Linked DNA regions of Homo sapiens: all the other regions are linked to region 1. The links come from fine-mapping of genetic effects on gene expression. A gene starts in region 1. Each other region holds a variant in brackets. All regions are shown on one strand. Distances are from middle to middle. Region 1 holds the start of MCF2 (MCF.2 cell line derived transforming sequence). Region 2 overlaps ATP11C (ATPase phospholipid transporting 11C (ATP11C blood group)). Region 3 overlaps MCF2 (MCF.2 cell line derived transforming sequence). Region 4 overlaps MCF2 (MCF.2 cell line derived transforming sequence).

Region 1 (8,082 bases):
GTGCTATTCCTATCAAACTGCTAATGGCATTCTTCACACAATTAGAAAAAAAAAAAACTATTCTAAAATTCACATGAAACCAAAAAAGAGCCCAAATAACCAAAGCAATCCAAAGCAAAAAGAACAAAGACGGAGGCATCACACTACCCAACTTCAAACTACACTATAAAGCCACAGTAAACAAAACAACTTGGGTGGCTGGGCACAGTGGCTCACATCTGTAATCCCAGCACTTTGGGAGGCTGAGGTGGCCAGATCACTTGAGGTCAGGAGTTTGAAACCAGCCTGGCCAACATGGTGAAACCCCATCTCTACTAAAACATACACAAATCAGCCAGGCGTGGTGGCGGGCACCTGTAATTCCAGCTACTGGGGAGGCTGAGGCAGGAGAATTGCTTGAATCCAGGGGCATAGGTTGCAGTGAGCTGAGATCACACCATTGCACTCCAGCCTAGGCGACAGAGTGAGACTCAGTCTCAAAAACAAACAAACAAACAAATAAAGACAGCTTGGTAGTGGTACAAAAACAGACACATAGACCAATGGAACAGAATAGAGAACTCAGAAATAAAGCTGCACAGCTACAACCATCTGATCTTTGACAAGGCCAACCAAAACAAGCAGTGGGAAAACAATTCCATATTCAGTAAATGGTGCTGAGATAACTGGCTAGCCATATGCAGAAGATTGAAGCTGGGCCCATACCTTTCTCCATATGCAAAAATTAACTAAAAATGGATTAAAGATTTTAATGTAAGATCTCAAACTATAGAAATCCTGGAAGAAAACCTAGGAAATACTCTTTTCGACATTGGCCTTGGTAAAGAATTTTTGGCTAAGTCCCTAAAAGCAATTGCAATAAAACCAGAAATAGACCAGTGGGACCTCATTAAACTAAAGAGCTTCTGTACAGCAAAAGAAACTATCAGCAGAGCAAACAGACAACCTACAGAATGGGAGAAGATATTTGCAAACTATGTATCTGACAAAGGTCTAATACTCAGAATCTATAGGGAACTTGAAAAAATTAACAAGTAAAAACCAAATAACACCATTAAAAAGTGGGCAAATGACATGAACAGGCACTTTTCGAAAGAAGACATACAAATGGCCAACAAATATATGAAACAATACTCAGCATCACTATCATCAGAGAAATGCAAATCAAAACCACAATGAGATACCATCTCACACCAGTCAGAATGGCTATTACTAAAAAGTCAAAAAACAACAGATGCTGGCTGGCAAGGCAGCAGAGAAAAGCAAACACTTATACACTGTTGGTGGAAATGTAAATTAGTCCAGCCGCTGTGGAAAGCAGTCTGGAGATTTCTGAAAGAACTTAAAACAATTCTACCACTGGACACAGCAATCCCATTACTGGGTATGTACCCAAAAGAAATTATTCTACCAAAAAGACACATGCACTTGTATGTTCATCACTGCACTGTTCACAATAGCAAAGACATGGAGTCAACCCAGGTTCCCATCAGTGGTAAATGGGATAAAGAAAATGTGCTACATATACATTATGGAATACTAGGCAGCCATAAAAAAGAAAGAAATCATTCTTTGCAGCAACATGCACGGAGCTGGAGGCCATAATTCTAAGCAAGTTAGTGCAGGAACAGAAAACCAAATACCACATGTTCTCATTTATGAAGGGAGCTAAGCATTGAGCACACATGGACATTAATATGGGAACAACAGATATTGTGGACTACTAGAGGGTGCAGGGAGGTGGGGAGGATAAAAAAAAAAACAACTATTGGGTACTATGCTCACTACCAGGATGACAGGATCTGTACCTTAAGCCTCAGCATCATGTAATATTCCCATATGACAAATCTGCACATGTACCCCCTTATCTAAAATTAAAGTTGAAAAAAAATGAAACAAAATGACATTGAACTTCTCAATAGCAACACTGGATTCTACAAACTAATGGAAAAATAAACACAAAATCAGGGGGGAAAAGGTTTTTCAGCTTGGAACTTTATACTGCGTCAGACTCTCAAACAAAAATAAAGGTTGTCTAAGATATTTTCAGACATAATTATTATTATTATTATTATTAATAAAAGTTTATAACCCATATAAAGAAGTTAGTAGAGAATGTATTCCCCAAAAAAATGATGAAGTACATCAATGAAGAGCAAGACAATGAATCTAGGAAATAATGATCCGATACAGGAGCACAGACAAAGGGAATTTCAGAAAGAGATGTGCAGCTAGCCGGCAGAGTAACCAGCTCAGATGAAAAAAGAAGGATGGAGGGCTCTGGGAGGGAGCTGCTCCCATCCCTTTCTACCTCTTTCTCACCAAGTTTGGTGAGTTTTCCTTAGGATCTTTTTGGGCCCCTCAAGCAACTTTCAAGAACCTTGCATATCAGAGAAAAAAAGGGTTGGAGTTTCCAATCCTTTCATTCTGAGAAGACCTCTAGGTTCTTCATATAAACAGTCCCACTCCTTCCCCAGAAACTTTCTACCTCCACAAATAAATACTATAGAGGCAAGAATAAAATGTGGTTTTGCCTCACTAGAGACCCTGCTTTAAAAAATGTGAGAAACATCACCATATTCTTTTGGAAGATTGCCCTCAAGACCTCCCATTTTTCTTTGCTCTCCAAGTCTACATCCCCCCGGCTACCTTCTGGGGACCAAGGTAGTTCTTCTTGGTCTGGAAAATTTGCGTGCTTAAAAAGAACTGGACACAAATAATGGAATGGTCTTTTACCCACTGAAAATAAATAATCTGCTGTCCAAATTTATAAGCCAACCATATGCAAGTTCACAAGGCAATTTCTCAAGTCCTAATCCCTAGACGGCTCAGAGACTGAGGCCCATACATTGCATAGGAACCACACCAAGGTACAGCCATCCCATGAAGCCCAGGTGCACACCAGATTTGTTATACTAATAGTTCCAGGTTTACAGTGGTGAAGTTCTAATCCAGAGTTGAGAAATTCCCACCTGCCTTTACTTGGGAATCCTAATTATTTTAGAAAAAACTGAACAGTAGACAAAGAACTGTCAGAGAAACCCAAAGCAGGCTATTGCGGTCTGTATGGACAGATACACCTTTACAAGAACTGCACTGTGTCCTGCAAATCATTGGTCCTAGAAATGGGGGATTCTGGGGAAAAGGGGAAACTACTACAAGAATGAAAATGACTGGCTATGGGGGATGCTATCTATAAAAATATTCCAAGACTGACCCACTCATTGCCCCAATCCATTTCTTATATTACTCTAAGGTAAAGAAATACTTACCACAAATGTTTGTCCTTAAGACTGTCGCAGCTCATTCTGTTTCCTCGGCCAAAAGAATGTACAATACTCTCTGCCTGCTCCAAGAACAAAAGCCTTCTTGCTCTTAACATGAAAAAAAGTTTCAAAGCCAATCTGATGTCAGCAACTGAAAGTGTAGAGAAGCCTTGACTTGAAGTAGAACCCAGAAACAAAATTATAAATCATACACTGTATCACAGTAGAGGAAGGAGACCTAATTTTTTTTTTTATTTACAAGGACAAATCTGGAGAAACAGAACGCCCACTCAAGAGTTAGCCCGACAGTTTGAAAACAAAATACTTCTGCACAAAATGCAGAAGAAGCTGGGCATATCTTTTTTTGTACACGACAAATAAAAATTGTATGGTGTACAATATGATTTCTGATGTATGTATACATCCTGGAATGGCTAAATCAAGCTAATTAATACTTTCTTTACCTCACATATGTATCCTTTTTGTGGTGGGAACATGTAAAATCTACTCTCTTAGCAGTTTTCAAGTACACAATATATTGTTATTAACTATAGTTATCATGATGTACAATAGGTTTCTTGGCAGGGCGCAGCGGCTCACACCTGTAATCCCAGCACTTTGGGGGGCCGAGGTGGGTGGATCACTTGAGGTCACGAGTTCGAGACAAGCCTGGCCAACATGGTGAAACCTCATATCTACTAAAAATACAAAAATTAGCTGGGTGTGATGGCGGACACCTGTAATCCCACCTACTCAGGAGGCTGAGGCAGGAGAATCGCTTGAAGCCAAGAGGCAGAGGTTGCAGTGAGCTGAGATCACACCACTGCACTCCAGCCTGGGCAATAAAGTAAGACTCCATCTCAAAAAATATATACAAATAAAAATATGAAAAAAAATTTAAAAATTAAAAAATAGATCTCTTGATCTTTGTCCTCCTGTCTACGTGTAATGATGCATCCTTTGACCAACATCTCCCAAAACCCTGCCCCATCCTCTGGAAACCACCATTCTACTTTCTACTTCTATGAGTTTGACTTTTTTAGATTCCCCATAGGAGTGAGATCATACAGTATTTTTCTTTCTGTGTCTGGATTATTTCACTTAGCATAATGTCCACTAGGTTCATCCGTACTGTCACAAATGACAGAATTTCATTCTTTTTTAAAGGCTGAATAGCATTTGTGTATATATAGTATAGTATATATAGCATATACTATATACATAGCATATATAGCATATACTATATACATAGCATATATAGCATATACTATATACATAGCATATATAGCATATACTATATACATAGCATATATAGCATATACTATATACATAGTATATATAGCATATACTATGTATATAGTATATGCTATATATACTATGTATATAGTATATATAGCATATACTATATACATAGCATATATAGCATATACTATATACATAGCATATATAGCATATACTATATATACGAATGCTATTCGTATATATATACACTATATAGACACGAATGCTATCATTCATATATATATATATATATATATATATATACAGTATATATAAAAAATATTTTCTTGAGGTTGCTTCCATATCTTGGCTATTGTGAAGAGTGCTGCAATGAACATGGGAGTGTAGATATCTCTTTGACAGACTGATTTCATTTTCTTTGGATATATACCCAGTAGTGGCATTGCTGGATCATATGGTAATTGATAATATGACCATAAATGCCTGGATTTTTTCTGGGCCAGAACATTCATACTGTTTTCCATAGTGGCTGTGCTAATTTACATTCCCACCAACAAGGGCTCCCTTTTCTCCACATCCTCACAAGCACTTGTTATCTTATGTTTTTGATAATTGCTACCCTAACAGGTGCAAAATGTTATCTAAATGTGGTTTTAATTTGCATTTTTGTGATGATAAGTGATGTTGAACATTTTGTCATATACTGGTTGGCCATTTGTATGTCTTCTTTTTAAGAAATGTCTACTCAGGTTCTTTGACCATTTTTAATTGGGTTATTTACTACTTTTTGCTATTGAGTTGAGTTCTTTATATATCTTGGGTATTAACCACTTATCAGATGTATGGTCTGTAAGTATTTTTCCCATTCCATAGATGGTCTTTTGACTCAGTTGTTTCCTTTGATGTACAGAAAACTTTTTAGTTTAATGCTATCCCATTTGTCTATATTTCCTTTTGTTGTCTGTGCTTTTGGGGTCATATCCAAAAAATCTCTGCCTAGACTAATGTCAAGAAACTTTTCTTCTATGTTACTTATTTTGAATTGACACATAGCAAATACATACATATGTATATATATATATATATATATATATAAAATTTATGGAGTGCAGTGTGATGTTTTAATACATGTATACACTGTATAATGATGAAATCAGGGTAATTAGCATATCCATGACCTCATATATTTGTCATATCTTTGTGGTGAGAACATTCAGTTTGAGGTCTTACCTTTAAGTCTTTAATCCATTTTGAGTTGATTTTTGCACATGGTGTGAGATGTGTCTAATTTCATTGTTTTGCATGTGTATATCCAGTTTTCCCAACACCATTTATTGATGAGGCTGTCTTTTCTCCATTGTGTGTTTTTGGCAACTTTTTTGAAGAACAGTTGACCATAAATGCCTGGATTTATTTCTGGGCCAGAAGATCTTTAAGGTATGTCCCAACCTTAATATATGTAGATAAAGGTAAATATATATATCCAGAAAAGCTTATTAAAATACTATCATCCTTACTTGGTTCTTTTTTGTATGTTATCTATATAATTGAAAATGGACATGCATTTACTTTACAACAAGAAAATATAACACATATTTTTAAAAGATACCAAAAATAGAAGTGATCCTTTTAAAACTTAAGTGAGATTATGTCACTCCTCTGTTCATAATATTCCAGACTTCTACTGGAATTCAGAATCAAATCTAATGTCCTTATCATAGTCTACACAGCTCTACATGCTCTCATCCTTCCATACCTAATTTCAACTCCTACCAATCTCCCTCCATTTTGGTCACAGTGACCTCCTGGCAGTACCTCCAATATGCCATGAAAGCTCCTATCTTGGGGTCTGGGCATTTGCTGTTCACATGGCCTGGATTCCCCTTCATCCATATATATGAATGGCTCCCTCTCTCACTTAATTCAGTTCTCTGCTCAAATGTCACCTTGTCAGAGAGAACTTCTTTTACTACCATATCTAAAGTAGCACCTGCTATCATTCTCGGAATATTTGCTTTGATTGCATAAACACTAAAACTTTCTGTGCAATATAAAAGATACATTCTTAATGATTAATTGACACAGAGAAAAATATTTGTGAAATACATGACAACATGCACATATTCTAATATACAGAATTATAATGAGTAAAAAAGGTGAGCAACTTAATAGGACAATGGGTGAAGGAAGTGTAATTGACAAAAGAGGAAATATAAACACCCACATGTACATGGAAAATCTATTGGAACTCACAAATAAGCAAAGAAAAGCTAATATTACCAAGAGTAAACACTATTTTTCCTTTAATCCAGGAGTTGGCAAATTTTTTTTTCTGTAAACAGCTAAGATAATAGAAATGTCCCCCTTTGTGGGCCACATATAGTCTTGGTCAGACATTCTTCATTACCTTTTTTTCCCTACAGCCCTAAAGATGCTGACTGGGTTGCTGACCCCAGATCTATGAGGAATGATTAAAGATGGAGAGCACTTAATGCTGAGAATGGGGAGGGTAAACTGGCTGACTGTTGTTGCGGGCACAGATTCATATAGCTTTTCTCAAAGACAGTTTGTCATGTACATATCTTTTGCCCCAGGAATTCCACATTTTTGACTTTACACCAAGAAGCTACTCGGGCAGGAATGGAAATATTTTTGTACAGAATACATTGCCATGTTATTCATAATAGCAGGCAAGAGGAGGAGGAGAAATTTATATAATAAACTAGGAAATAGTTAAACCATGTGCATGAAATAAATGAAATGCCACACAGCTATTTAAAAGTCATATATATATGAATTAATTTATATAGAACAATCATACGACTTTTTATGGTTTAAAATTATAGTGTGTATAACATAGTTCAATAGATACAAAATTATATATGTATATATGTTGTGTATATGTGTATATATACATATACATATTCAAAAAAATATGGTTACCTCAGGGGGGTTGTGATACTAAGTGACTTTTATGTTTATATTATTAGGTATTGCTTGATTTTGAGCAAGTATCGTCAGTATAATCAGAAAAAAATAAAATTCTTATTGAATTTAGCAAAACCTCAGGTCAATTAAAATGGACTTTTGCCTGAAGTGCAACAGTTTTCTAAACTTATTCTTACAATATAATAATGCAAGATAGTTTTCACAATTTGAACAAATAGTTTTTATGGGTTTTGTTTGCTTTCTGGTTTGTTTCTTGTACCAAAAGGACAGAGTTACTTGTTAACTTGTCTTAAAAATATTCTTTTGGGAATTCTATGATTTATGCATTTTAATCTCTGCCACCTCTTTTCTCCAACTCTCTGTGAACACTCATTGGCACCATACTGGTGTGATATTCCCAACCCAGGGCACAGAGAGTGGAGGTACAAGAAAATCACCCCACTGACCACTGTACAAGAGAAGCTAGGGAGTGGAAGAGTTGAGAGGAGAGGGATAATGAAAGGCATCCGAGAAAGTGCTCACTCAGAAAACGCACAGGGAACTTGTGTTCCCACATCGCTGTCTTTAATTTGCAGCCAAGCAATACTCAGTTACTCTATCATGGAAGCTTCCCATGTTTGAAAAT
Region 2 (8,082 bases), 110 kb after region 1:
TTACGTAGTGTACTGGGAACAACAGATTGGATGCTATGAATCATTTAGGCAGCCTTTGTTTGTTGTTACTGTTGTTGGTTTTTTTTTTTTTTTGAGACAGGGTCTCACTCTGTCACCCAGGCTGGAGTGCAGTGGCTCGATCTCGGATCACCGCAGCCTCAACTTTTTGGGCTCAGGTGATCCTCCCACCTCAGCCTCCCAAGTAGCTGGGACTGCCTGGCTAATTTTTTTGGAGAGACAGGGTTTTGCCATGTTGCCCAGGATGGATTCCAACTCCTGGACTCAAGCGATCCACCCAACTTGGCCTCCCAGAGTGCTGGGATTACAGGCGTAAGCCACTGTACTCAGTCTGCCTTTGGTTCTTACGCTGATCAATAATGCTGAGTTTCTACAGTTGTTTCAAAAACTTCAGATCTTAACCTAACCTAGTTCGGCACAAGTTCCCCCTTGACCAGGATGTAAAGAATAGAGAAAAGAAAAAGTAGAAAAAGGAAGACATTCTATGTCAAACACTGGTGACCCTCCCACTCTGTAGTCTTCCTCCCATCATTACTATAAGATGATGCAAGGAAATTTAACTATTGTTGGGCATATGGAGAATTCTTAAAATTCAATAAGAAAACAACCTGCTTTAAAAATGGGCAAAATCTAAGCAGCATCTCACCAATGAAGATATACAGATGACAAAGAACCATATGAAAAGAAAGTCCATATCATATGTTATCAGTGAAATGCTAATTAAGACAAAAGTGAGATAGTACTACACACCTGTTAAAATGGCCAACATACAAAGCACTGAGAACATCAAAACCCAGTGAGGATGTGGAACAACAAGAACTCCCATTCATTGTTGGTGAGAATGCAAAATGATACAGCTACTTTGGAAGATAGTTTGGCAGTTTCTTACAAAACGAAACATACTCTTACCATACAATTCAGCACTTCTTTGTATTTACTCAAATGAATTGAAAATGTATGTCCATATAAAAACCTGCACACAAATGTTTATAGCAGTTTTACTCATAATTGCCAAAACTCGGAGGCAACTAAAATGCCCTTCAGTAGGTGAATGGATAAACTATGGTATATCCAGAAAATGAAATATTATTCATCACTAGAAACAAATGAGCTATCAAGCCATGGAAAGACATGGAAGAAACTTGAAAGCATATTACTAAGTGAAAGAAGCCAATCTGAAAAGGCTGTATGATTCTAAATATGTGACATCCTAGGAAAGGCAAAACTATAGAGACAGCAGAAAGATCGCTGGTTACCATGGGTTGGGGGGAATAAGGAATGAACAGGAAGAGAACAGAAGATTTTTAGGGCAGTGAAACTATCCTGGTATGACACTACTATGGATACATATGTACATATATACAAATGTAGGCTATGTGGATATGTATCCTATATTTAACAAAACCCACAGAATGTACACCAAGAGTGACCCCTAATATAATCTATGGACTTTGGGTGATAGTGTGCCAAAATAGGTTCACTGATTGTAACAAATGTACCATTCTGGTGTGGGATGTTGACAGCCAGAGAAAATGTGTTTGGGGACAGTGGGTTTATGGGTACTCTCTATATTTTCTACTCAATTTTCCTGTGAACCTAAAACTGCTCTAAAAATATAATTTTTTAATTTAAAAAATCTAATGAGAACCAAAAAATTAGTGTTTGACATGGACAAGTCAAAAATGTTATTTGACAGGGTCTTACTGGGTAAATAATAAACAATGATTAACTGGAATAAACAATTGCCTGAGATTGTCAAAAAAAAAAATACTACTACCTTGGAAGTCTCTTATGTTGCTGATGGGAATGTAAAATGGTACAGGCACTATGGAAAATAGTTTAGTGGTTCATTAAAAAGTTAAACACGTAATTACAATATGACCCAGCAATTTTCCTCCTAGGTATATACCTCAAAGAATTAAAAACAGATGTTCAAACAAAAACTGTAATTCAATGTTCATAGCAATTCATAATACCCAAAAGGTAGAAACAACCCAAATGTCCATCAGCTGGTGAATAAATAAAATGAAATGTTATTCAGCTATCAAAAGGAATGAAATGCTGCTATATACTATAATGCAGATGAACCTCAAAAACATTCTGAGTGAAAGAAGCTAGACAAAAAGGACACATAAGAAATATGAAACATTCAGAATACATACATCCATAGGGACAGAAAGAAGGTTAGTATTGCCAGGGCCTGGGAGGAGGGAGAAATGTGGAGTGACTGCTTATGGGTATAGGGTTTCCTTTTCGGGTGATGAAAATGTTCTGGAACTAGATAGAGTTAACGGTTGCACAACATTATAAAGTACTAAATGACACTAAATTATACACTTTAAAATGGTGTATTTTTACCATTAAAAAAGGAGTGGACTAAGAAAAAATACCTTGATTTTTTCACTTTCTTTTCTCACTCGCTTTGCATTTTCAATAATGTAAACAGTGCTTTTGTTGACTTCATTGTCAGCTCTGTGTCTCAGACAATCCTCATATCCCTGAAAGATAAAAATAACTATATAATTGAGTTCTGATAATGAAATAAAGCTGTTAATAAATTTCTATATCCTCCCATGAGTCAACACCAAATATTTATAATTATAGCATTAATTTAAACTCAGAATGCTAAAGAGACAATGCTACACATTTTAATAGCAAATCTGAGACACACTTTCAAAATACTCCTTAGATAAATAGCTTTGTTGTGTTAAAAGTTTTCTCCACTCTTTAAACATTAATGAAAACACAAGCACTGGAGACTTAATATTTTCATGTGTGAAAGGCTATGATTTATTTTAACTGTACTCTTGAGTTAGTTAATTCTATTTTTTAATTTGAAAAAAGATTGTCCTGGGTTTGTATTTTCTTATAGCCATAATCACTTACATATAATCTTTTGTATATGCTGTAGTAGACTGTTCGAGTAATCATCTCCAAGGGAGTATTTTAATTATTTCTCACCCACAGAGAATAATAGAAAAGGCAAGCAAGGATTGTTTTGGCAGAGAAGCTATGATAAGTTGTAGAGATCAACAGCTAAACTTTTCAACTGACTTGGTGACAAAAGAAAATATAAATTGGTATTCATCGTTTCCAGTTAAAAGTAATCAGAGAAAGATCTAATGGCTCATTTTACTTTGGACTTTTCATCTAAAGTAGATTTAAGCCAAAAGATCTAAAGGATGTTCATGAATGTTTGATCATGACCTCCTCTCCTTTTTTATATACCTTTGTCTTTTTTCGTTGTAAGAATGTCTGTACCTTTTCAAACACAACTGTTTGAAAAGTCTCTTCATCGCCTCCCCCCACTTTTTCCCCTCAGGTACTATATCCATTCTTCTTCTGTCCTCTTTATGACAATGCTAAGCTATCACTTTATAGAGTACATTTTGTGATGCTGGTGAAGAAATAAAGGTCCTAACATGAACCAGTATTGGGAGCAGAATGAATCAGTAAAAAAGCCTTTGAAAACCACACATGCTATTCTTGGAACCAGCAATTTTATGATGTTAAAGAAAATAATCCTATCAGTCTAAGGAAAAGAACATTCCAAAAGTCTTTATTTTGCAACTGAACACTTGATAAAATATTCTTATAGTTCCTGGTAGGCAAGATATAAGACCAGATAACCCCAAGAGGAAAGGTAATCTTGTTCCCAATAATGCTAAGAAGACCTTTGTTTTGCAAGCTTCTTTGGTACCCTTTTTAAAAGCACTTTGTTAAATATCATCTAAAAATATGTTTGTAAATAGTCAGATGCTGTGGACTGACACAAAACATGATTAACATTGTTAACCTACCCTTTCACCTCCAATTTCCTGTTTCCATTTTCATCTGCAATTTTTCAAACATACTAGCATACAAAATGTTCAAAATACTTCAAAGACATCCATATCACAATCTGTGGCAGTCTATCAGCTCTGACAAAAAACAGGAAATGTCCCCTCTACCTACTACCCCCTGAAGCAGTAGAAGGAAAAAACAAGAAAATTAAAGTATTCTTCCCTTGAGTTCTCGCTACAGGCTTAAGCAATTTTTAAAAATCCACAAAAATGGGAGTTTTTCACACAGACATACCA[C/T]GCTGAAACAATTAATATGCATTAAAAAATCTGCCTCCTATTTCCTGACTGGGCTGTACCTTTTACCTGCTCTTTCTTTTACATTTACACCCACATACACAGATATTTAAGAGGAAACAAGGAAATACATTAAGGATGTGCCTATCATTTTAATAGGTTTTCAAGAGGAACCAAATATAAAATAAATCCATAAAGGATACTACCCACTGTATATAAATATGAAAAAGAGCCTTTGACAATGAAATTCCAACAAGCCTGGACTGAAATGCAGGTGCAAGTGTAAATAAGAAATTTACCTGCTTGATGGCTGTAACAGTTATAACAAAGAAAAGTGGAAGTCCACTGGTAACTGGGCTAGTTGGTGTGTCTACTGTGACCTAGGTAAATAAAATTAAATTGAAAGTAAAATGAAAATTTGTCATTAACTCATATGCAGCACTTACATGCTGCAAACATTTCAAACAGAAACATAGACAAAACACTTTCCAGTAGTAGGGTAAATATTAATTTTCATTAAAACAAAAGCAAACTACATGGCAGTTAGTTTAAGAAATAGTCCTAAATTCAGGCATAGTTTTTATCCCAGCTTGGATTAACCCCTTTATTGAAATATATCCATTCACTTACCACCTATTTGCTGAGCACCATTCTGTCAGCGCTTGTGCTATTATCAGCAAAGCTCTAGAGATACTGCTTTAAACAAGATGGAGACAAGTCCCTGCCTTCATGTAGCTGGCAGCTTACAGGAAAAATCAGACAGTAAAACAAGTGTGTAGATGCTGAGGTCTGAAGGGTAAACAGGAGTTAACTAGACGAAAGGTAGTTTTCTAGGCACAGTGAACAGTATATGCAGGTCTCTAGGAAATAAAGGAAGCCAGTGGCGAGAGGGAGTGTGGTGTGAGATGGGGCTGGAGAGGGAGGCAGGAGCCAGACTGTGCAGGGCCCTCTAGGCCAAAGTAAGCTGTTCATTCTCTATCCCACAAATAGCAGGAAATCCTTGAAAGTTTTAAGCAAGGAAAGGTCACATGAACAGAACTGCATTTTGAAAAGATCATTCTTACTGCTCTGTGGAAGATGAATTAGAAGGGAACAAGAGTGAAGGCAGGGAGTCTATTTAGGAGGCTATTGCTGTAATCTAGGTGAAAGATGATGGGCTTGGACTAGTGTTAGCGGCAGGCATGGAAAGAAGTTCTATAAATATTTAGGAGGCAAAAATGCCAAGAGTTAGATGTAAATGCTAATATTAAAGATGTCTTCCAAGTATCGGGTTAGCATGTCTAGGTGAATGTTGTCATCATTTACTGACACAGGAAATACTGAAAAAGAACTACATTTAAGGGAGGATGATTTTGAGTTCAGTCTGCCCTCCCAACTCGTTGACTCTCATCTCCAACCCTCAACAAGCCCTGCCTCTGCCATACACCCTGTGTTGTAGATACAATGTATACTTCCATGTACGCAAGGCTTCTACATGGCTCTGTGACTTTAGGCAATCTCTTCCCTATCCCTGAAATACCAGTTCAGCATTCTCCACCAAGTAAATCCTTCTAATCCTTAAAGGCTCTGTTCAGATAGCATCTATTCTCTGAAGCCTTATCAAATTCCTCTTGGGTAGAAAAAAATGATAACTTACACTGTATACCCAAAGCATTCTGTTAATGCTTCTTGAATGGCTTTACTACATTAAGTGAATACATAACTGTTATGTGACTGGTCTTCTCAGCTATAGCATAAATTCTTTAAGAGTAGAAAAGCCATATCTTGATCTTCATTGTACCTGCTACCATTTTTGTTGTCTGTCCTACTGCACAGCACATAGTAGGTAGGTGAGTGGTATACATTTGCTGAACTGAAATGAAATGCACTGCCCACCAAGTAGAATGATTCTTTCAAGCAGAATCCTCTAGGTAGTTTATTCTATATCTGTAAGACATCTGACCATAGATCCAGAGGAGCTCCTTTTCAAATCTTCCATCATTCAGGATTAAAATAGGCTCTTGCCCATATTATATCCCAGACTGATTTTAAGTAGCAAGGCTAAATTCAATTACAGTACCATTTACTCAAAGCCTCAAAGTGAGTCAACAGAAGCACTTAACATCAACAGGGCATTGGAGCAACTTCAATGGGATTTTTCTGCTTCATTTAAAAAATGAAATGAGAAAAAAAGTACCTTTAATGTAGTAAAATTTTCAGGGGTAATTATGGCGAGGAAAAGATTTTAATAGCTTACAGATTTAAAGATGGAAGACACAATTTAAACTGTCTAAAATTTAAAACACAAAACAGTAGAAAGAATACAGAGAAGCAGATTGATCTAACTAGGCTCTCACCCTTACAGTGAGTAAATGAATGAGAGAGAGCAAAAATGGTAATCAGGAAGATGAGTGAGAAGTTTCCAATTAGGCTGAAACTGGTATGTAACAAAATAAAACTACTAGTTTGAACTATTTTCAGTTTTGATATATTCCATTTCATTTAATGGTACACAATACACGTCATCCTGGGATGAGCAAAAATATGATATCCATGAAAATTTCAAAGAAAGTAACAATGAAACAAAATCTCAACAGGTTTTCTAGTAAAAACACAACTTTAGAAATTTACAAAATGATAATCTTTAAATGTTATGTTTCTACTTTAAGAAGTCATAATAAGCTCTGGAATGTCTTTTTTTAATTACATGGCATTTTAAGGTTAGAAATAGATTGAAAATTCGTTTAAAGCAATCAAGTTTCTAAAAGTTAAGTGGCTGTTTAAGGAGCTCTTACCTGTACAAGGAAGATTATGAGAAAATAAAAATTTGCAATTCTTCTAAACTGTTCAAACAGATTCTTTGGGAGAAAATTCCAAAGTGTATACTGTAAGGGAGGAAGAAAAAAGAACACTGTTATGAAGAAAACTTGAAAAATCTTAATAGTAATGACTGATTATGGGTCCACATTATCATATAAAGTGATATTTAGTATGTCCAACACTTTGAAACTGAAATCTCACACATATACATAAGCATATATTTAGAGGCACTGTATATGAAAACCTTTTTCAGAAATGAAGCTTTCATTCTACGCATTACAATAACCATCTAGTCTCATACCTTTGCTTTCTCTGACCCAATCTAAATTAGGTTCCTTGTTATGTGTTCTCATGTCACCCTATATATACTTACTTGATAACACTTATTATAGTGAGTTATATATGTGTACATTTTAAATTAAAGTTTCTCCCTTGATAAGCAAAGAGTTCTATAGGAGCAGGTTGTTCACCTGTATTGTTTACAATTTTCCCAACACTCAACACAGTGCCTGGTACAAGGCAGACAATAAATTATTTGGATGGCCAGGCACAGTGGTTCACACCTGTAATCCCAGCACTCTGGGAGGCCAAGGCAGGCAGATCACCTGAAGTCAGGAGTTTGAGACCAGCCTGGCCAACATGGCAAAACCCTGTCTCTACTAAAAATAACAAAAATTAGCCGGGTGTGGTGACGCACACTGTAATCCCAGCTACTCGGGCGGCTGAGACAGGAGAATCGCTTAAACCTGGGAGGCAGCGGTTGCAGTCAGCCAAGATCTCACTACTGCACTCCAGCCTAGACAACAGAGCGAGAATGAGACTCCGTCGCCAAAAAAAAAAAAGGCCTGGGCAACATGGTGAAACCCCATCTCTACTAAAAATACAAAACTTAGCTGGACATGGTGGTGCACGCCTGTAGTCCCAGCTACTTGAGAGGCTAAGACACGAGAATCGCTTGAACCCAGGAGGCGGAGGCTGCAGTGAGCTGATATGGTGCCACTGCACTCCAGCCTGGGCGACAAAGTGAGACCTGCCTCAAAAATAAATAAATAATAAAATAAATAAATAAATAAATTATTTGGAGGAATGAATGAACACATTAATTTCTGGCTCAGCTAACCTCTGGAGTCTTGATGATCATAACAGATACCCCTATGAGTCACTCTGTCCCTATGAGTACCTCCAATTT
Region 3 (8,082 bases), 63 kb before region 1:
ACAATTTTGTACCTACGAAGTTTCAGTTTGGAGAAGAATTGAAACCATAAGGATTTCAAATCATTACAGATTTTAAATTTATTCACTTATACGGTAACACCCAGGAAAGGCTGCATTTTTAAGTGATGATGGAATCCCCTCCAGACCTATCCATGGCAATATACTCTACTTGATCATGGTGAAAGAAAGGATGAATCCTTTTGTTAGATATTGTTTTAAGTCATTATTTAAAGCTATGCTGTCCAATGATTCAAAATTGTTCATACAGTCTTAAACGAATAACATGACTAAGGTGCTCATTCATAAACCTGATGACATTTAGATTTTGAAATTATATTCTACCCCCTCAATTGCCTGAAAATTACCCTATGTCAATATCACAGTAATCACATCAATGCAATCCATGCAAATATAAGTCTCCATTCTCTCCATCTGTCCTTAAAAACCCTACTCAGCAGTTTGTGCTATAGCACCATGCTGCAGCATCCCAGCACTTGAACTTGGGAACAGGCTTTCCAGGAGTGCAGACAGAGCCCTTACCGCATTCCTTCTGAACCTCATCTTGCCTCTCCGGGGATTTGCTTCTGCCATTTCGCCTGTACGCAATTACACTTTTCTTTTCCAATTGTCAACGCAACGTTGATGAAATACGAGCTGCTTCTTGGGTAGTATTTAAAAACGGCAGCCAAAAATCTCTATCAAACAAAGCTGCCGTGGCTGCTTCCATTAGCACAGTGGCAGCAATGCTGGGGAGGAAAAAAAAAAAAAAACCACTATCCCTGATTAGTCAGCTGACAGATCCTTCCCTTCTGCTCCTTGTAATTCAGAGTTAACACATTCCTCCAATTACTTAGCCTGATTGAACCTTGTGGATTAGCTTGTGCTGGACTGCTCAAGAAGATCAGGCATGTCCTAAGAGTGGAAGGAGGAGGAAAAAAAAACCAGCTCTCTTCCTAGGAGCAGGCTTGATGGGACTGGCTTTCTCCTCTGCGCAGTTTGATTTTTAAGGTGGAATGCTAAGAATCTTTGTGAAGGTAGTATTAACTCATGCTTTTTACTCTCGTCCTACCCTGGTATGTGACTTAAATTTCAATTCTGTTTTGTTTTCTCTGTTATTGTATTCTGGGTTTAAGCCTTGTGAAAGGCTATAGTTTGCAAAATTTTGTCCTGGTAATAATCTAGAAAGAATAGAACATGCAAACTTTCTAAGACGGATACAATTCTCTCCCAAATTAACCTTTCCCCAAAATGTATAACTAAAATAAAGTCTCCTCTCATTAATTATGAAATACAACCTAAATGCTTTTATTTGTTTTGAAATCTACAAATAAAGGTATTCAAATTGAATTGTATGATTATTTCACAGACACTTGTTTGAAATAATACACCACAGGCAATTATACCTAGCTACACAATGGTAGATTTCACTAGAAATCCTTTCTGAATGCCAACTTTTGCACTTGAAATTAGCTTGCATTCAATATTTACCTTTATTTCAAACAGTAACCAACAGTTACTAATGGTTGAGATGTAATTAATGTGCTCTTGAGTATGAGTATAGAAACTATACCACAAGCAAAAACATTTAACATGTTAAAAAAGAAACACCTAAAACAACCTATAGCCAGTTACATGTGGTCAGAATCTGTACCCCTCCCTTGCCCAGCACGATCAATTTGGCAGTTATGAAAATAAAGGGACCCTGGGATCCAAGTTCTTTACTGAGCATAGGTCAAAATTCTCCACTGAGAAAGCAGCCCTGGGAATACAGAAAGAGGAGTATCACTCCCCGGTAGACAAGTAATTACCCTCTGTTGACTTCAAAATGACAGGATCATGACCTAATCTTATATTTCTCTTTTATGAAAAATAGAACCTCTGTTACAAGCCACCTATTTTGAATAATAAAAATAAAACTCTACCAAAAAAACTAACGTCAGGTGCCAAACCAGTCACAAAATGAAAATTAATTTAATCAGGCGGGTGCAGTGTTGGCCAAAAGAAAAAAACCTGGGTGATAAAAAATGTTCTAATGTAACAAGTGCTTTATTTAGTATAAGAGAAGCAATTATTAGCATAAACCAAGGTCTACTCAGCAAGCCCAAGGACCAATCCTAAAAGACC[G/A]GAGCAAGGGAAATAGCTTTTACTTTATTTAGCCCCACTGATAAGGCTCAATTGTATATGGAGGACAGATCTAATCTCTCAAAAGAAATTTTACCTTTATCTAAATAACATTGAATGTATTTGTCTATTTGTAAGCCAATTGGAAAATGATAGAAACCATCACCAACTGGAATTCTTGACATTTCAATTCTTGCTCTGGCTTTTTTGGTTACTTGGCTATTTGAGCTTGGATTCATCACATAGCCATTCCAAAGTATAAATATCAATGTGATTTCATCATCTATAAGACAATTATAGTGATACCTACTTGCAGTACTTAATCAGGAAATGAAGAGAATCAACAATACTTAATAAATGTGAATGCTTTTGAAAAAGCACTAATATGCTATAGAAAGTCAAATTTTCTTCTATTTTATTTTAGTAATTTGAGTATATCTAATGTTAACTCTTCTCTCCACTGCTAATGATTAAACACCTCTGTTAAATAAACAGGAAACCACTTTTTGCTTATTTGTCCAAAGTGAGGAATAATTCATTCTGAGTATTAAAAGAATAATGATCTTACCCATTTTACCTTGCAAGTGCTAGAACATTGGCTTGGAAGTCCAACAACCTAGATTTTTGTTTTGCCTTTGCAACTAAATCAAGTTCTTGTGGTGGGCGTGACCTCCTCAATCAGTCAGGAGACAAAGTAAGAATTTCAGATGGCTGGCAATGTTGGAATCTCAAAGAAAAAAAATATATTGATTCCCAGCTATTCTAGTCTGATAGAGGAAGTTGGCCACATGGCACTTCCACAGAGAGCCCATATCTTGCCAGCTCAGAAGGAGTCTGGGGGTCCCTCATCTCCCTCCTCGTCTATGAAAGTGAAGTGTCAAACAATTTTGTGATACCCTTGTGAGCCTAAAAGTGTAAAAGATTATCTTGGTCATGGGCAGAATTGTACCTCTCGTTATTTTAATTAGAGAAAATGTTTCTCTCTCTGGGTCTTGGGAACCTGGGGACTAGATACCAGTAGGGAAGTTATATATCATTTTATATGTGACTCATCTCCCTACCCTATCCTAGGGTAAAACAAATCTAGAAAGTTGTACACTGAAATGTTAAAAACTGCTTATTTTGGGGTGGTTGGATTACTATTGTTTTAAACTTTCTTCTTTATACTTTTTCACATACGAGTATGCAACACAGCTATTTCCACCAAAATAAATAAATAAATAAATAATTTTAAAAAGCTTCCATAAAAACTTGCCTTGTCCTGAAAGGCACATAGAACCATGAATCTCTTCTCACTCATAACTGGAGCCACAAACTACTCACTCATTCTTACTAGGTTTTATTTTGGGTAGAGTTATTTATCTCAGTCTCTGCTACAACCTCTCCTTCTACTTTCCCTCCTCACATTCCATCAATTTTTATTGTCTCCGTCAGTACCAAAGTAATCTATACCTCCCAAAACAGAAAGTATAATATAAAACAAAAATAAAAAGTTACTGTATAATGCATAGATACTTACCGAGATTTTTTGGAGAGAGATTTTGAGAGAAGACCATGTATCCAATCTTCGATCCAGAATAATGGTAAACCGGGAGTCTGATCCATTTTGCCTGAACGATAAGAAGAAATAAGAACTTTTTCTTAATAATAATGCAAATTTGTTATATATGCCTTCATTCTATTTCTGATTATTTCATCTACATTTGATGTCTTGACTGAAGACAGATTTGGAATTGGAAAGCTATCACAAAGTCCTATCTTAGAAAACTAATCTGAATACATATTCCCTTACTCACTATTTAAAATTTCTTTTGCAGCATTAATGTCAATCTTTTAAATAGGAAAGTGATAGTGTAATGAAGATAGGTCACTAAAATTGATTTAGAATACTGTAATCTTGGGTGTGGGAAAACTCAAAAGATAAGTGTCCTTCATGATATCAGATTTAACTTTCCATGCAATCCATCATGAGTCAATGATCCATTCACTCATTCAAAATCACACTGCTAAATCTATTTTTCTAACTCTAGTCTGCTCCTGAGGAAATGCAGTTTAATGGAAAATATAACTTCTATTTGCCCTAAAAATATCACTTTCAAGCTTCAATAGGTACATTGTAAGTTTCATTTTCTGAGATTTGATTTTTGTTCATGAGACTTTGAATTTTATCATCCTAGATTTGTGTCCTCTTGTTCTTCAGGGTTAGTAACTAGAAAATTCTTCCTTTGAAAATTTTGTCTTTAACACACATAAAATCTCTAAGAAACCTTTTTAAACTTTCCATTTTAAAGCATTCTAGTTCCAAATAATTTTTAATTTCAAGACATTCCTCCTAGTATCTCCCAGTACCACTATTGAATCTACTTAAGATTCAGTCTTCTTGTGTTATATTCAGAAGAAATGAAAAATGGCTGTACTCACTCTTGGCTGGTAATATTTCCTTTTAAGCAAATTAAAGCATATATGTATGACCATCGTTCTCAACCTATGTTCTTTTTGATGGGAACAAATACTCCTAGATCCCCAATTTTATTTTCATAGATTCTCAGGATAATTTTTGTAACAATTTAGGTAGCTGCCAGCTTCTCCTTCTAAGTTGTACTTCTTATCTACTCTGAAGTTAAGTCAGTTGGTTATTCACCATGATAATAATAGCTATATTAAGCCATTTTCATGTTATGACATTCAGATGGATATCTGATATAAAGCGAATTGAAAAAAATGTAATGAAATACTATACCTTGCAATAGATGTCAGGTAAGTAAGTACTTTTGCTATTACTTCCTCTGGTATACATCTAAAATTACAGTTTTCTGGAAACGTAATGATCCAAGCATTGTCCTTTCCCCGGCCACCTACAACAATAGAAAAATAATCAACTGAATTAAAAATGTATATAACAACGAAGCAAGAAGAGGATTTTAGATTTGAATACTGTTTTGCAGCAACACAACTTTTTTGCAAAGATGATGATCTCCACATAAAACCAAAATGGCTCCAAGTTCCTGACACTTTAAGTTTAAAAGGTGGCAGAGTAGTTTCTCAATAAAAAAAGAAAAAGAAAGAGAGTAAAATGAATGAATATAGTCAGAAGAAAATGTCATGAAATGCATATAATAAATACAGTGGAAAATAGCTGATTCCCCAATCTGGACAACCAAGGGGTTGGGAAATAACTGTTTCTATACCAATGAGCCTAAATTTAAAATGAGTGAATGATGGCTTGACAGCAAGTGGAAAATTTGATATAATCGATCTCTTAGTGTCATGGTGAGCAGGAAAAGATACAGAGCACCCTATAGGAAATAGGTGATGGTCTAATGTGTTTATGGAAGAAACAACAAAAGGAATGATGGCAGGAATGACATAGGAATTTTATTAATGCAAAGAAAGATCACAAATTATCTGTGGGTCAAAATTCAATGTTCAGCCTGGGTAGGGGTCCAGGCAGAGGTGTAGGGTTGTGGAAGCTCCCCGCAGACCCATGCAGCCATTAACCTGGAGCAGTTGCATCCAGCAGTATCTTGACCAAGTGGGTGACCTTGACTCCTGGAAAGCATGGATCCCAGTGCTCATAGGTGAGGCTGCCCTAAGCCCATTTCCATAGGAACCAGGAATAATGGTAACTGTCATAGGGGTTCTTGGTGAGGGAATGATTGCACCAGCTCTGGGCTTTCATTTTGGTTTCTACCCGTTTCTCCACCCAGCCCAATAGCCCTCTATGCAGCCTGAAGGATGAGAAATATTGAAAACGAAAGCCACTTAAGTGCAGAGATGAGCCTTACATGTGTTTAAGGTTCACATCTGCAGCCAGCCTAGCACCTACACAGAGAGCGAATGCTCAATAAATACTAAGTGCCAAATAGAATCTGAAGAATTATTTTAGGAGGAAAGTTGCAAGGTGGCCTTTGAAATTAGCTCAGCAATAGAAATTTTTTTAGTTCAGTTGTAATTTTTATTTGGCTGAATTTAAGTGAATAAAGATGTAAAAATATTTTTAATTCAATCTGCAATAAAAATATGACAATAGAAAAGGATACAGGCCGGGCACAGTGGTTCATGCCTGTAACCCCAGCACTTTGGGAGGCCGAAGCCAGAGGATCACTTGAGGTCAGGAGTACAAGACCAGCCTGGCCAACATGTTGAAACCCTGTCTCTACCAAAAATACAAAAATTAGCCGGGTGTGGTGGTGCACGCCTGTAATCCCAGCTACTCCGGAGGTTGAGGCAGGAGAATCGCTTGAACCTGGGAGGCAAAGGTTGCGGTGAGCCAAGATCATGCCACTACACTCCAGCCTGGACAACAGAGCAAGACCCCGTCTCTCCACGCCCCCCCCAAAAAGAAAGAAAAAGAAAAGGATATAAAATGGAATCACAACAATACTCAACGCAAAAGAAGACAGAAATGGAGGAAAACAAAGAACACATGGGACAAATGGGAAAAGCTACCATCTCACTATTTGTATTTTGCTTATTATATGATAGTAAGATGGTAGATTTAAATCCATCCATATGAATAATCACATAAAATGTCAATGATCTAGGCACTGCAATTAAAAGTCAAAGATCATCAAACTGGATAAAAAGAAAGACTGAATTATATGCTGCCCACAAGAAACACACATTTTAAATATAAAAGTACAAATTATTAAAAGCAAAGGATAGAAAAAGATATACCATGACAGTGCTAATCAAAACAAAGCTGTCTAATATTTGACAAAGTAGATTTCAGAGTCGAAAATATTACCAGATATTAAAATGATCATTTGATCATGATAAAGTGGTCGATTCATCAATGGGACATAATCTTAAATGCTTATGCACCTAATAACAGAGCTTCAAAATACACAAAGCAAAAACTGATAGAGTGGCAAGAGGAAATAGACAAATTCACAATTTTAGTCAGATATTTCACCACCCATCTCTCAATAATTGATAGAACAAGTAGACAAAGAATTTGCAAGGATATTGTATACCTGAACAACAGTCTCAACCAACATGACCTAATTGACATTTCTAGAACACTCCATCCAACAAAAGCAGAATACACTTTCTTCTCTAGTGCACATGGAAAAAGATCAAATTAATTATTTGCCTCAATATTTACCAAGGGAAACTTGAGAGACAGTATTCATTCCCAAATTATTTTTTAATCAAACTAGTCCAAAGTATTAAATCAAAGGGTTATTAATCTTCACTGTATGATATTCCAGAATTAGAGTAGAGTGAAAATAATCACTGAGAATAATGGCATCCACTGAAGAGTTTTTAAAAAACTCAAAGGAGAAACTGTACAATTCTGAACCAAGAGATTTAGTGAATCTTTAAGCAAAGGGCCTCTATAGATACAGTATGGTATAGAACTAGTAATATAAATGATATGTAATATATAATGTAATAAATATCTTAAATATAACTACATACTTGCCAAGCAAGCTGGTGAGCACTCTAGTTAAGGACAGAACCATCTAGCACTTAGGCAAACTACACTTATCAAAGGAAAGGTGGCAAGGCTCCTATAAGAGTAAATTATCATTGACTAATCTATAAATGATTATTACCACTGAACACCTACAAGTACTGTCCTACGAGTAAACTTTATGAGAAGAGATCAAAAGAGATATTTACATTCCAAATCAGGAAGTTTTAATTATTTTTTACCATTGGGAACCCTTTCTTCAAAGGAAGCTATAGGTAGAAGCATTTTTAAAACAAATACAAAAAGCAGTTAAGGAAGGAAAGGTGTAGAGAGGGGTCTGGATGGGTGCAGCAAGCCCTGAGGATGGTTCTATTTAGAACACGGTTTGGAAAACACAGATAATCTTAAGTAAAATCTCCAAAACTTAAAAGTGAACGTAACATACTGCTAAATTTACTGACACTCACACATTTCTGCCACTTATAAAATAAAACATAAAGCCATATTAATTAAGTCATCATTAATTCACAGTTACCACTAAT
Region 4 (8,082 bases), 73 kb before region 1:
TCTCTCCTGTACATGCCCCCATACATGTATGCGCTACCTTCTTCAGATAATAACAGTTTCTATTTACAAAACATTTTCTGTAAAGCTAAATCAATCTCCACAGAAACCAAAACGCCTAATTTTCCTCCATCTAAAAGTTTGCATTGTTAATGGTCCAGCTTCTAAAAGAATGCTATGCTCACAACAAAGAAAAGGACTTTATGTAGTAAGTTATAATTTATCAGGAGGGGCTGACCTTTTCAAAAGTATCAAAATTTATGAGCACCCTATTCCTAACCTTAAAAACAAACAAAAATATTTTTAAAAAGTCATGGTACTCTGGACTAGCTCAGGATGTAAGTTCACGGGAGTTCAAATACATAAAACATACACTCAATTTTACTAAAAATAAAATTTCCTGCTTATATACACATACACGCACATACATATACACACATGCACACATACATATATACACATATATATAACATATATGACATATATTTTTTGCAAAAGTAATTGCTTTGTTATAAATTGATGAATCGATTTCTTTTTCAAATGGTAGAAGTGAAAGACTTTTGGGCATTTCAAATGTATACTTTTAAAAGACATTTTAATTTTTTTCTTTTAAATGACACATGGGCACATGTAAAATATAAACAGCATGGTACAGGTCTTCATGAGAATTAGAGGAACAAAACATTTAAATAATATACTCTTACTGGTAATTTAAGCATAAAATCCTCCTGACTAAACCAAAATCCAATGTCTGTGAACGTTCGTTGAAGAAAGCTGGTAGGACGTAAAACCAAAACCAAGTGCAAGTTCCCAGGGAAGGAAGCCTGTAGAAAGAAAGAACAAAAGAAATTGGAAAAAAAATTGTCAACACACACTCAACTGAGCACATATCAGAAAATATGTAACTGAAGGAAACAAATTTTAAATTCATAAAAGCCAGTAAAAGGCCAACACTTTACAAATGGATATTGATAAAATCTAAAAACATGCAAATAGAAAAATAATGTAAGGCTCCAGGTCAGATCCTTGCAACACTTCTGGTACGAAATTTTCTCACACTAAAGAAGTAGATCCAACCTTATGAAGAAATAGACTCTAAATCTTATTTTAGAGTTATTTGAACTCAAATTGCACTTATTTCCTATAAAAACAAATAGAATTAGGTGGCAGTTTCCTAGGATAACCCTAAAAGTCAAAGGGTTTTTGTCTGTGTATTTACACTAAACAATGAAAGAAAACTTTATTATGGGATTATATTTTTATTTTAATCCAATCAATATTTACTGAACATCTTCTATGTGTCTACTTCATGTATTTAAATGAATATCAAGCTCTGTTAGGCATTGAATGTTCACAAATTAAGAAAACACAATCTCTACCCAACAGTTCAACTGCAGAGTCCATTACTAATCAGCAATTCTTTAACTAAATTGATAAGTAATCAAAGGAATTAGAATAATATACAAGGGGAAATGATAGCACAAACTCTCCGAGACATAGGAAGGTCAAAAAGATCTTGAAGCATAACGAGGAGTTAACTGGATCAGAATGTTGTTCTAGTTCACCAATGTTTCCCCAGCGTCTAGAACTTGCTGGCACATAGTATGCAGTCAAAAATAACTGCTACACTAAAGAATTCAAAAGACAAAGAAGGAGGACACATTGCAAAATAAGTGGAGAACGGAGTAACATATCCCAATTTTAATAACAAATCACCACGTACTAAATGCTTACTCTGTGCAAAGCATTTTGCCAATATTATCATAAATTCTTTTCATAATAATTCTATGAAGGAGTTAGGTTACTCACTTTTACAAATAAAGAAAGTGAGACTCAGAGAGTTTAAGGATACCTTCCCCCAGCTGGCAAAGCCTTCATTTGCCCCTAAGTCTGTGCTCTTAATCACTAAACTACTCCACCTCCTGAAAAGGCCCTAGTCAAGAGAGCTAGATGAAATGACACTGGGGGACAATGGGAGATGGTGTTGGGAAAACGGGCCAGAACCACATCAGAAAGGATCATGGGTTTTTTTTTCCTGGAGGTAAGGGGAGTCTCTAAAAGGTTTTGAGCATCAGAACAACATGGTCAAATTTGCATTTTAGAAAGATCACTTTGGCTTTGGGAAGAACTGGATTTGAACAAGAGTAGAAGCAGACAGATGAGCTAGGAGGCTGGTACAGTAATCCAAGCCAGGAATGATGAGTTTCTGAACTAAAGTAATGATACCAGGAATAAGAGTAGAATTTAGGAGGCACAATCAGCAAGACATAACTACTTGATGTACTTGCCGAGAAAGGAGGTACTAGGAGGATCAAACTCCAGATTTGGGGCTTGAGTAACTGGTTGAATAGTACAACCTTCACTGAGATGGGAAACACAAGAGAAACAGGTTTTAAGAAGGGAAACAAGATTCTGATCTCCATTCATATACACGTTAGGTTGGAAGGGTCAGCAGGACATCCAGATGATGTCCTTCGGATAGCTGTTTGTACAATTAAGAAGGGAAAGAAGTCTAGGCTAAAAGTGGAGAATCAGGAGCCATCAGCCTCAAGATGGCAGATTAGAGCATAATAGAGCAAAATATATGAAAAATGTTCCAACTGCAATTATATTTCAGGCATATTACAATACTAGTAATTAAACAAAACTATAAACTAAGAATAAGATACTGTGGGGCAAGGAGTTTATGGGAACTCTCTGTACTTCCTGTTAAATTTTGTTGTGAACTTAAAACTGCTCTAAAAAAATAAAGTCTATTTTAAAATAAAAGAAAAAAGTAACTTCCACCAGGGTATAAAACATAGACTCTTTGGGAAATGATGCTCAAAACTGGGGATTTTCCTAATTCAATTTGAGATGGTGATAAAACATAAAATGTTAAGTGGCAATGAGAACTAGAGTAAATGAAAGAGAAATGAGTGTGATAAGCACAAATAAGTAAATTAAAAGAGCATAAAATTAAATCAATAAATTAAACAATGATTATCAATATACATAAATTGGGATGGCTGTCCAACTCATAATTCCCCCAGGAGGCCATGACTGTTACTCTCTCCCTTCATCTGAGAAACGACTCCCCCTTCTATTATTCTACACATTGGTTCCAAATGAGAACTCTTATTTTCCTACACGGCCCTGCCCTTCCAACACACAATGATTAATAGTGATTAGAAGTATGATTAGGGCCAGACATGGTGATTCATGCCTGTAATCCCAACAGGCTAGGAGACCGAGGATGGAGGATCACTTGAGGCCAGGAGTTCCAGAACAGCTTGGACAACATAGTGAGACCCCATCTCTACAAAAAATTTAAAAATTATCCAGTCATGGTGGCATGCGCCTATGGTTCCAGTTACTCAGGAGGCTGAGGCGGGAGGATCACTTGAGCCCAGGAAGTTGAGCCTGCAGTGAGCCATGATGGCGACAGAGCGAGACCTCATCTTTTTAAAAAAGAAAAAGAAAAAACATAAGTATGAACATTTGATGTAAGCAGGGCCAAAGAAGTCCTGCCCTAGAATTTTCAAACGAATACTGAGTGAAGGAAACTTTGAGGATGCCATTCAAAAGCAGCAGATTGCCAAGAGCCCTGCTGCTGGGGAAACATTGAAAAGAATAAAGTTAACATGTATACAGAAACAGAGAGAGACAGAGAAACAGAGAGTTCCAACGGTAATGTATATCCTACCTTCTATTATGTACGTAATGTATATTTTATTTTATGTTAAGTATAATATGTATTTTCCAGCTGGACACGGTGGCTCACACCTGTAATCCCAGCACTTTGGGAAGCTGAGGTGGGAGGATTATTTGAGGCCAGGAGTTCGAGACCAGCCTGGCCAACATGGTGAAAACCCGTTTCTACTAAAAATACAAAAAATTAGCCGGGTGTGTTGGCACACGCCTGTGGTCCCCGCTCCTGGGGAGGCTGAAGCATGAGAATCACTTGAACCCAGGAGGTGGAGGCTGTGGTGATCTGAGATTATGCCACTGCACTCCAGCCTGGGCAACAGGGTGAGACTCTGCCGAAAAAAAATATATATATATGTTTTCCAGTTATTACAGGAATTAAAAGAAATAATGAATATAAAGGCACTTCTAAAATTTTTATTTTAGGTTTGGGGGTATATGCAAAGGTTACAGAGACAAACACGTGTCACAGTGGGGGTTGTTGTACATATTATTCCTTCACCTAGGTATTAAGCTCAGTACCCAATAGTGATCTTTTCTGCTCCTCTCCCTCCTCCCACCCTCCACCCTCAAGTAGACCCGTGTCTGTTGTTTCCTTCTTTGTGTTCATAACTTCTTATTTAGCTCCCACTTATAAGTGAGAACATGCAGTATTTAAGGAACTTAAACAAATTTACAAGAGAAAAACAAACAACCCCATTAAAAAGTGGGCCAAGGACATGAAAAGGCACTTTTTAAACTGTAAAAAATATTAATAAGATAGTTTTAAAATTTTGCCTTGGATTCTCGGACGTCAGAACAAGCAGGTTTGGGTAGAAAACTTTAGGGATATGGATAAAGGCTAGCTTAAGGGAAGAATCTGACAGGGACTTGTGGGAACTTTTGGCCTATTTTTAAGTGGAAAGCACAGATTCTATTTTTACTCCCTTAATTTTAGGAGTTAAGCCTTTCCTTTTTCTTCACCTGGGTAAATTCCCATTATATTATTATACTCACCTGCCTTGAACCTGTTTATTTTTTCACTTTTAAATGAAATTGAAAGCACCCTACTTTTGCCAACATTTAAAGCAAAATTACTTTTATTCTTTCATGGATTCTAAGTTGATCTGGTTTCATCTTTCTCTCTCTGACTTCCCTTAATCTCATATTCTCTTGTATCTAGAATTATCTGGATACAAGAACCTGGGGCTGACTTCAAGCCAGGGGTACTCACCCATCTCCAAAATTATGTGTGAGGGAGGAGGGGATGGGAGGATACTATGGGAATAGAGAGAGCTATGTAGCAACTCTCTGCCTGAGGTAAGGCCCTGCTCTCTACTCTGCCATTCCTAGGAGAGCAAGGCTGTACCAGCAGCCAGGTCCAGAGACAGCTGATCACATAGCAGGGAACAAAGTAGAAAGAAAGGAGAGAGAAGGAAAATCACCGTCTGCAAGATGAGTGGGGAAGTGATTTTAAGCAGGGGTAGGGGTATTCAGCTGCTCATAAGCTAGGGATTTTATGTTGGATGTTTATTAAACCTGTTATTGCTCTATTTAATAAAGTGGATTATCCCAAACATTGACGGCTATATAAGTTGCTTCTAAAGATAATTCTATATGCTAATCAGTTCATTCTTAAGTAAAACCTTCTGATTATCTTAGCATACCTTCTCATTCCTTAATTCCTTCAAAAT[G/A]TTTAGTAATTCACTTGTCACAAAAAGCCCAGAAAAACTTGGGCTTTTAAAGAAAATGCACCATCAAAGGATGAAAACTTCATTTATTGACTACATAATAACATTTACAATATTTTTTGTTATAGTTTATAGTACAATTTTATAATCTTTTTTGCATATCTTCCTAGAGCACATGGATTCTGTTAACCCAATAGTTACTCCCAATTTTAGTAGCCATTTGGGAGACTAAATAACTTGTAGGCAATAGCTACACAACTACTAAGCAATCAGAGCAATCAGGTGGCACTCAAACAATTCATCTGATTTGTCAGTTATTTTTCTAGAAAACTAAATCATATAGTTTAGACCAGGTGTGTTGTTTTCATCCCTCGTGCCCACACGTGAATAAGACATACCTGAATTTTTAATCCCACTCCCATTCACTTAACCCAGACCATAACAGGTGCCTACCAAACTGTCACACTTTTAAAGTATGACATTTATGACTACTTTTCATAGCTTCTCTTTAGCAAAAAAAATACGTATATTTATGTATATTTATATATTCAGGACCTCTCAAAGCTTTAAGGTAGGGAAAGGAGATTGGAGAGTTGGACAGGGGTGGAAATGTCATTTATTGAATGCATACTACTAGAATTATGCCCATAAAGAGCACTATTATGACATTGTGCTAAGTATTTACATGCAGTAGGTTCTATTTTTGTCCTCATTTCACAACTGGAGAAACTGAGTGCCATTATCCTCAAAGATGTCTACATCCTAATCCCTGGAACCTGGTAATATGTTATCTTATATGGTAAAAGAGACTTTATAAATGTGATTAAGGATCTTGATATGGGGAGATTATCCGGGATTATCATGGTGGGACCGATGTAATCATTAGGATAAGAGGGAGGCAGGAGAGTCAGAGAAGAAGATGTGATGGCAGAGGTCAAAGTGATGCAGGGGTATAAACCAAGGAATGTGGACGATCTCTGCAAGCTAGAAAAGTCAAAGAAACAGATTCTTCTCTAGAGACTCCAGAAGGAACACAGCTCTGCTGACCCTTGATTTTTAGCCCAGTTGGGTAATCTTGGACTTCTGACCTCCAGAACCGTAATGATACATTTTCACTGTTTTAAGCCACTAAGTTTGTAGTAATCTATTACAGCAGCAATAGGGAACTAACACATTGAGGTTTTGTGAGGTCAGGCAATTTTTCAAGACCTTCTAGCACATAAGTAGCAGAATTAAAACCCCGCTTCACCTGCCTGTTGAACTAGACTCAGTCAACAAGAGGAATTTGCAGAAGTTATAGCAGGGATGACACAAGAATCAGGTTGGTTGAGAATCTAAACCTGAGACCTAAAGCAGAGGTGACAAACTTGAATGCCTACCATGTGTTAGGGAGATAATGTAAATGTGAAGTAGGCTTAATTAAAGAACAGCCTAAATTAGGTGGAAAATAGCAATTCATACTCCTCCTATATGACGAGGAGCAACAGGAAGTGGTGGGGACCATGGTGAACTGGAGAACATTCAAAGCAGAGGGCACTCATAAGTCAGTTCACTCATAAATCAGTTCCAGCTACATGTTGTCATGTGGCAAGGTGGGCCCAGCATTGCCAACTCTTTGGTTTCTCAAGAGAAGACAGAAATCCAGATTGTCATGCAAAGCCCAGATGTTTAAAGATGGAAAACAAATTGAAAGTTTGTTAAAATGCTGCATACTCTAAACAAAACGCATCTGTGCACTGACAATTTGCAACCTCTGAACCAAAAAGCTTCATAGATCTGAACATCAATCAATATCAATAATATGGACACGTCCTTATCTGTGATTGCCGGCTATGAGAATCTAGAGGGGACAGAACACTCTTGAGCAATTTTAACCTGACAAGCCATATACATTTAAGATTAGTTTGTATGTATCTATGTTGATATACATATAAGTATATATAGAGAGTACTTTTTCTCTATATACCAATATTTGTAACAACTAAAATTCTCAAGATAATCCATTTTAAAGCTAGTATTTAAATGAACAATCAAACAGCATAGGGTATCAGATGCACATATCAAAGCAAATATAGTTCAAGACCAGTGAACTTTCCCATTTTGGTTTGGGAATATTATATTTCTAAATTCTTGGGTATGCTGCTTTAAGAACCTCTAATCTGTATGGTTATATAAACATGAAAAAGCACAATTTCTTTTTCCCCAAAATAAAAACTGAGATTTTGAAAGTATAATTCATTTTTGAGAACTTGTCAAAAAAGCAAAGGGATTTGGGCAAAGGTTAGTCTTGTTTTATTTCAATGTGTTTTTGCTTTTTTAAAAAAATAGTTTGCACGAGAGAGGAAACAGCATTGGTTTTAGGTTCTCGCAGACATTTTTCTGGAGTTCCAGCATGTGACTGCTTAAAGACATCTCAGTAAAAGCGAACCAGCTGCCTATCACATAGGACTCGGAGCCATGTGTCCAATCACTGTACGTGGTCCCACCCCAGCCCTCAGCAGCAGCTCTTACAGGCTCTTCAAGGTAACGAGCACAAAATAAGCTCCCTCTCATCTTTCCCTCCCAGAGAACAGATTTACTCCCTTTTACTCACACGTACTTCCAGATTGCCTAGTTCTATGATCTTACAGCAGTAACAACAACAATAACAACAAGAGCAGGCGTAAACCAAATACATCATTTCACTACCGAAGTCTAGAAATTAACCTTGTTTAATACTCTTGTGTGT

What was found. PIP is the estimated chance that this variant, and not a neighbour inherited with it, causes the effect. A credible set is the group of variants that fine-mapping cannot tell apart.
Region 2: its variant is the best candidate, but not a certain one, in a credible set for the expression of MCF2 in whole blood (TOPMed, PIP 0.79).
Region 3: its variant is the best candidate, but not a certain one, in a credible set for the expression of MCF2 in spleen (GTEx, PIP 0.82).
Region 4: its variant is the best candidate, but not a certain one, in a credible set for the expression of MCF2 in thyroid (GTEx, PIP 0.50).

The regions. Positions count from the first base shown.
Region 1 is chrX:139,704,834-139,712,915 of GRCh38, forward strand. It overlaps MCF2 (MCF.2 cell line derived transforming sequence), which reads right to left and starts at 3,334. Exons shown (of 29, transcript NM_001171876.2): 1 at 3,273-3,334.
Region 2 is chrX:139,812,470-139,820,551 of GRCh38, forward strand. ATP11C (ATPase phospholipid transporting 11C (ATP11C blood group)) reads right to left here. Exons shown (of 30, transcript NM_001353812.2): 3 at 6,869-6,958; 4 at 4,394-4,474; 5 at 2,409-2,516. Among named protein-coding and RNA genes, the nearest start is that of MIR505, 110 kb to the right of the region's middle. The variant C/T (reference allele first, on the strand shown) is at 4,098.
Region 3 is chrX:139,641,928-139,650,009 of GRCh38, forward strand. It overlaps MCF2 (MCF.2 cell line derived transforming sequence), which reads right to left. Exons shown (of 29, transcript NM_001171876.2): 3 at 4,862-4,976; 4 at 3,641-3,731. Among named protein-coding and RNA genes, the nearest start is that of MCF2, 62 kb to the right of the region's middle. The variant G/A (reference allele first, on the strand shown) is at 2,125.
Region 4 is chrX:139,631,634-139,639,715 of GRCh38, forward strand. It overlaps MCF2 (MCF.2 cell line derived transforming sequence), which reads right to left. Exons shown (of 29, transcript NM_001171876.2): 5 at 702-821. Among named protein-coding and RNA genes, the nearest start is that of MCF2, 72 kb to the right of the region's middle. The variant G/A (reference allele first, on the strand shown) is at 5,358.